Homo sapiens: one gene and its partner. The protein of the gene in region 1 purifies or fractionates together with the protein of each later gene. This does not show direct contact. Each region holds a gene or a part of one and is shown on either strand. Other genes may lie near its edges. The genes, in order: DEFB1 and NMT2.

Region 1 (2,746 bases):
AGTCCTGGAGATTCTCAAATGCTAAAGTTAACCAACACAGTGCCCTAAGACCAGAAAGGAGAAAAAATGGAAGTTCTGGGTCCTGCCAAAGGACTATTTCACTGAGCAGACTGCTGAGACCTCTGAATTATGTGGACACTTGAGAATCAGTCATGTGTTGGGGCCGGCGTCGTGGCTCATGCCTGTAATCCCAGCACTTTGGCATTTTGGGAGGCCAAGGCGGGTGGATCACCTGTGGTCAGGAGTTCGAGACCAGCCTGGTCAACATGGTGAAACCCTGTCTTTACTAAAAACAAAAACAAACCCCAAAAATTAGCCAGGTATGGTGGCCGGCACCTGTAATCCGAGCTAGTCGGGAGGCTGAGGCAGGAGAACTGCTTGGGCTTGGGAGGCAGAGGTTGCAGTGAGCCGAGATTGTGCCACTGCACTTCAGCCTGGGCGACAAGAGTGAAACACCAGCTCAAAAAAAAAAAAAAAAAAAAAAAACCAAAAAAAAAAAAACCAAAATCAGTCACCTGTTGGTTTGTGGATCAAACAAAGTGGAGGTGACATCACTGAAGCCTAGGACATCACTCCCCTTTTCCAGGCAGGCTTTGTGGTTCGACCTGTCTCACGTTCCAACCCATGCACCCTAACCCCCTACTTCTTTACCTCTTCCAATTGAGACACAAGATTCATTTTGGCCCAAAGGAGGTATACTTCAAAAGCAATTTTCCTTTATTAAAAGAATGCTTATAAAAAGTTCATTTCACTTCTGCGTCATTTCTTCTGGTCACTCCCAGCTCACTTGCAGCACTTGGCCTTCCCTCTGTAACAGGTGCCTTGAATTTTGGTAAAGATCGGGCAGGCAGAATAGAGACATTGCCCTCCACTGCTGACGCAATTGTAATGATCAGATCTGTGGCCAAGGCCTGTGAGAAAGTTACCACCTGTAAGGAGGGAACACAAACACTTCAGACTCATGGCTTGTAGCTGCAACGATTTGAGAACATCTCGCGAAAGCAGAACAAATAACTGCAAAACACCGGAGAGTCTTCTCTTCCAAGAAATTGGCCCATGATTGATCTTTGGGGCTACTCATGAAATGAGGTGTCTGAACAGCTTACTCAGTCTGGGGCTATGCCAGCTGTGGCCAAATACAAGCCAAGGAATGAGCAGTGGGGTTCTGAGTGGGGTTTTCTTCTGCTGAGAGATTTTAAATGTGCAGGGAATTCAAGTTATTTTTCCAAACAAGTTTTCTGCCTTGTCTCAACACACCCCAAAATCACATCCTGTGTTTTAGAAATGTGGAAGCAGCTGCCACTCTTCAAACACAGCCTACACTTCCCTCCTTCCATGCCTTCAGTTACGCTGTTCCCTCTGCCTTGAATCCCGGCCCCCTCACTTCCCACATCACTATTTCAGCTGAAATCTAGGATCGTTTCACATCGGGCTGAAATTATGGTTACTCTCTAAAACTTTCATAGTTTTTTTTTCTACTTGGACTTTATTTTGCCCTTCTCCCAGTATCCCAGATCTGATAAATAGAGACAGTACTCTGGAATAGCCTTCTATTCCATGCAACAGGGAACAGTCGCCTGTGATATTCCTGGCGAGGGACCAGCAGGCCGCCATGTTGCAAGTCTCCACTGGTAGGCGTTTTGGACTGAACTGAATCCCCTAGGAAAAGAATTCCTGTGTCGAAGCCCTAACAGTGCCTCAGAAGGTGATTGTATTTGGAGAGAGAAACTTTAAAGAGGTGATTCAAGTTAAACACGGTCATTGGGGTGTGCTCTGATCCATAAGACTTGCATCCTTATAAGAAGAGATTGGGACAGACACACACAGAGGAAAGACCATGTGAGGACCCAGGGAGGCGGCGGTCATCTACCAGCCAAGGACAGACACCTGAGAAGAAGCCAACCCTGCTTCCACCTTGATCGCAGACTTCCTGCCTCCAGGACTGCGAGGAAATAAATTTCTGTTGTTTAAACTGCCTGGTCTGTTTATGGGCAGTTTAAACGATAAATCTGGTAGCCTGAGCGGACTAATACAAGAGGCCATCGCTACCCTAGGAGACAGTACATTCTCATGTTGCAGATCTCTGTTGGAAAGATGGCTTTCACACCGATGGAAATTGTCTCATCAGTAACTTCCATCCAAAGGCTATTTTTCCACTTTTTGCAGTAATTCCACTTTTGAAAAACTCTTCTCATTGTCCTCAATGCCTGGTTTCTGGTCCCTTCCCAAACCTCTTCATTCTCCTGTGGATGTGTTTAAGTTGGCCAGTACACTTCCCAAAGTTTGAAGCCTGGTATCAATACAGAGTCCCTTCAATGTGTTCCGCCAACCAAGGTAAATAGAGGCTTCATTTCTCTCATTTTGTTCTCAAAGCAGCACCATCCAATATGGCAGCCACATGCTCCCTGTGGCTGTTCTCTTTTAGGTTAATTGAAATCACCCTAGCCGCATTGCAAGTGCTCACGAGCACTATGTGGCTAGTGGGTGCTGCATTCATTGAACAGCAGATATAGAATCTTTTTACCACTGCAGAACGTTTTATTCAACTTCATTTCAATAGAAGGTACTCTGTATTGATACCAGGCTTCAAACGTTGGGAAGTCTATTGGCCAACTTAAACACATCCACAGGAGAATGAAGAGGTTTGGGAAGGGCCCGGAAACCAGGCATTGAGGAGAATGAGAAAAGAAGAGTTTTTTTGTGTTGCTGTGGAGATGGAAGGGAATTGAGAGGCACTCTGGTTCTC
Region 2 (3,823 bases), on another chromosome or scaffold:
AAGGATTGGAGACTGAAAGTGCTGTCTCCATGCACACAATCTACCTGTGAGTAGACAGGCAGACACGCTGTGTTCTGCAAACATGTTTTGAGGTGTGTCTTAGTTCAGCCTGCTATTACAGAATACGATAGACTGATTACTTAAAGAAAAGACATTTATTTCTTACAGTTCTGGAGGCTGGAAGTCCACCAAGATCAGGGTGCCAGCAGGGTCAGGTTTTTGGTGAGGGCCTTATTCTTGGCAGAGCAACAAAGCACTGGACTCTATCTCTTTATAAGCATACACTGATCCGATTCATGGGGACTCCACCCTTGTAAGCTATTTACCCCCCAAAGGTGCCACCTCCAGACACCATCACGTTGGGGATTTAGGCTTCAACATATGAATTGGCAGGGAGATACAATTCAGTCCCAGCAAGGTGCCAGCATTGTTCACTATGTCCTTCCCTGAAAACTCCCTTTGCCCACAGGTCTCACCAAAGGTGTGGCCCTCAGTGGCCATGTTGTACCACACAATTCTCTTCTACCCCTCCCTTTCCCTTCTCCATCACAGTGGACTGGATCATGCCTGGATAATCCCTTTCTTGGCCAGAAACCAGTGAGATCCTTTCTGGAGAATCTGAACTAAGGAACAGATGCTTGGGGCAGTCTAGTTGACAGAGACTGAGACAGAAAGGGAGAGAGGTTAGAAAGACAGATGGACCTTGGGTACTTGACTTTCTATAATGTTTAATTCTAATAAAGTCCAGCCATACTTTATTTTCAGATAACCTATTGTATATTTAAATAAAACCTCCTTAAAATATTTATTTATTTATTTATTTATTTATTTATTGAGACAGAGTCTCACTGTCGCCCAGGCTCACTGGAGTACAGTGGCACAATCTCGGCTCACTGCAGTATGTGCTTATAAAGTGATCTCCATCTCTCGGGTTCAAGCAATTCTGCCTCAGCCTCCCGATTAGCTGGGATTACAGGTGCCCGCCATCGTGCCAGACTGATTTTTGTATTTTCAGTAGAGATGGGGTTTCACCATGTAGCCCAGGCTGCTCTCGAACTACTGACCTCAGGTGATCCACCCGCCTCGGCCTCCCAAAGTGCTGGGATTACAGGCGTGAGCCACTGCGCCCAGCAAAATAAAACCTTTTACTCTAGCTGGTTGGTAGATGCTACACACACATTAAGCAACAGACGCAAAGACCCACATCTCCCATTTGTGATTGTGGACAAGGAACTCACCTCTAGGAGCCACAGCTTGGGGCAGGAGAATGAGGGTCTTCCCGAGCAGAGGGCTGGGGAGATGAGGTGAGAGCAACTGGGAAAGATGTCACGGGAAAGATACACTCACTAAGAGCTACAGGGCTTCCGGCAGGGGTCAGCGCCTTTGGTCATAGTGGCTGCGGAAGGCTTCATGAAAGAAAGGACATTTGGGCTGACCTTGAACTTAGAGAAGAGGAGAAGAAAGATCAGGAGACACTCTCAGAAGCAGAGGAAGCCATGACCCACAGAAAGGCGTGAGCAGTAACAAATTCCTCTTGGTGAACAATGATGTCTGACACTGAATTCAAAGTTGTTTTCTGCGCTACTCTGTAATCAGACCTCCCTCCCTCCCCATTAGCCACAAACGCTTCAGCAAATGCTGTGCACAATAGCTGGATTTTAGTGATTCCTGGGAGGAGGGTGGTGAGAGACACAGAACTGAAGATAACCGTGTTCCACCCAAGGTCAAATGTTGAAGAAAAAGAGCACCCTAAGGACACACAGGCACAAGGAGCCCGGTGATGGGGCAAGTTGGCTGCAGTGTGGGTGTGCCTGAGGACCATGAAAACTTAAGACCCCAAGAAACCCCCATGAACATGTATCAGCTCAGGCCATTTTGTTTAGATAGTAAAGGAAAGGTGCCAGGTGCAGTGGCTCACACCTGTAATCCCAGCACTTTGGGAGGCTGAGGTGGGGAGATTCCTTGAGGTCAGGAGTTCGAGACCAGCCGGCCAACGTGGTGAAACCCCGTCTCTACTAAAAATACAAAAATTAGCTAGGCATGGTAGTGTGCGTCTATAATCCTGCCTACTTGGGAGGCTGAGGCAGGAGAATCGCTTGAACCTGGGAGGTGGACGTTGCAGTGAGCAAAGATGACGACACTGCACTCCAGCCTGGGCAACAGAGTAAGACTCCATTGCAAAAAATAAAAAATAAAGGACAGGCGATCCCAGCATGTGAAAGGACATGGAAACCCTTTGGTAATAGAACAACAGGGAAAAAATGCCAGAAGCTTCTAGACTGAAAACAAGTTAAAACAGACAAAAAGAATAAGATTACCTATAAAAGACAGAGAAGCAGAGAAAACAGCATCTGGCCAGGCACAGTGGCTCACACCTGTAGTCCCAGCACTTTGGGGAACCGAGTCAGGTGGATCACCTGAGGTCAAGGTCAGGAGTTCGAGACCAGCCTGGCCTGGGTGACAGAGCGAGACTCTGCCTCAAAAATCAAAAAAAAAAAAAAAAAAAAAAAAAAAAACACAAAGAAAACAACATCTGTACCAGTAAATACTGGAAGATATTAAAACGTTTATGGAGTTTCAAGGAAAACGATTGTTATCATAGAGTCACATGCACACCCAGGCTATGTATTATGTGGGAGGGGAAAAGAATGGCATTTTCAGACATGCAAGAACTCAAAATACATCATCCACGCACTCTAAGAAAAAAAATCATGTGAGAATGCTGTTAAAGAAGAAAAAGACAGGATGTGTTTTATTTTTTACTTTTATTTTTTTGAGACAGAGTCTTGCTCTGTCGCCCAGGCTGGAGTGCAATGGTGCAATCTCGACTCACTGCAACCTCCACCTCCTGGGTTCAAGTGATTCTCCTGCCTGCCTCAGCCTCCCGAGTAGCTGAGATTACATACGCCCGCCACCACACCTGGCTAATGTTTTTTTGTATTTTTAGTAGAGATGGGGTTTCACCATGTTGTCCAGGCTGGTCTCGAACTCCTGACCTCAGGTGATCCGCCCACCCCGGCCTCCCAAAGTGCTGGGATTACAGGTGCGAGCCACCACGCCTGGCCGGGAGGATGTGTTTTATAAAGAACGATGGAAACCCATAAAAACAATAAAGCTGTCAGGAAAGTCTAAAATGTTTTTGTTAACAGGAATGTGAAACATGTAATAGTTAAGAAAAAAGTCTCTAGTGACACAAGGGCAAAAATAAAAGAATTACAATTCCAGGTTATTTCAATTAAACCTAGGAAATGAAAAGAAGTCAAAATATCCTACATGATTTTTCTTGTGAGATGGTAGAATATTTTAAATAGTGGTTAATTTTTTGATATGGATAAAGAAATATAGATGAAAACATACTTGTTCAAAATGTACAGATCGCCGGGCACGGTGGCTCACGCCTGTAGTCCCAACACTTTGGGAGACGGAGGTGGGTGAACTGCTTGAGTTCAGGAGTTCGAGACCAGCCTAGACAACATAGTGAGACCCTGTCTCTACAAAAATACAAAAATTAGCCAGGTGTGGTGGCATGTGCCTGTAGTCCTAGCTACTTGAGAGGCTGAGGTGGGAGGATCACTTGAGTCCAGGAGGTCAAGGCTGTAGTGAGCTGAGATTGTGCCACTGCACTCCAGCCCAGATGACAGAGTGAGACCTTGTCTCAAAAAAAAAAAAAAAAAAAAAGTGTACAGATAATCCACAGAAGAAAAAAAGAATGAAAACTAGACATATTCTACCAAAGACAGGAAATAAAATACAGAAATTTTTGAGTACCAAGAAAGCTTATAAACAAAATTCAAAGACTGAATATGATCTGAGCTGTCCAGTA

The links.
Region 2: the proteins of DEFB1 (region 1) and NMT2 purify together in Homo sapiens (affinity purification with mass spectrometry; 2 studies listed by BioGRID and IntAct, with this or other methods). This does not show direct contact.

Annotation. Positions count from the first base shown.
Region 1 is NC_000008.11:6,869,898-6,872,643, forward strand, and holds the end of DEFB1 (beta-defensin 1 preproprotein), read right to left. Parts: intron 930-2,746; coding exon 784-929; 3' UTR 695-783; downstream 1-694. UniProt on the Homo sapiens protein: Has bactericidal activity. May act as a ligand for C-C chemokine receptor CCR6. Positively regulates the sperm motility and bactericidal activity in a CCR6-dependent manner.
Region 2 is NC_000010.11:15,158,595-15,162,417, forward strand, and holds part of NMT2 (glycylpeptide N-tetradecanoyltransferase 2), read right to left. Parts: intron 1,443-3,823; exon of another isoform or gene 1,239-1,442; intron 1-1,238.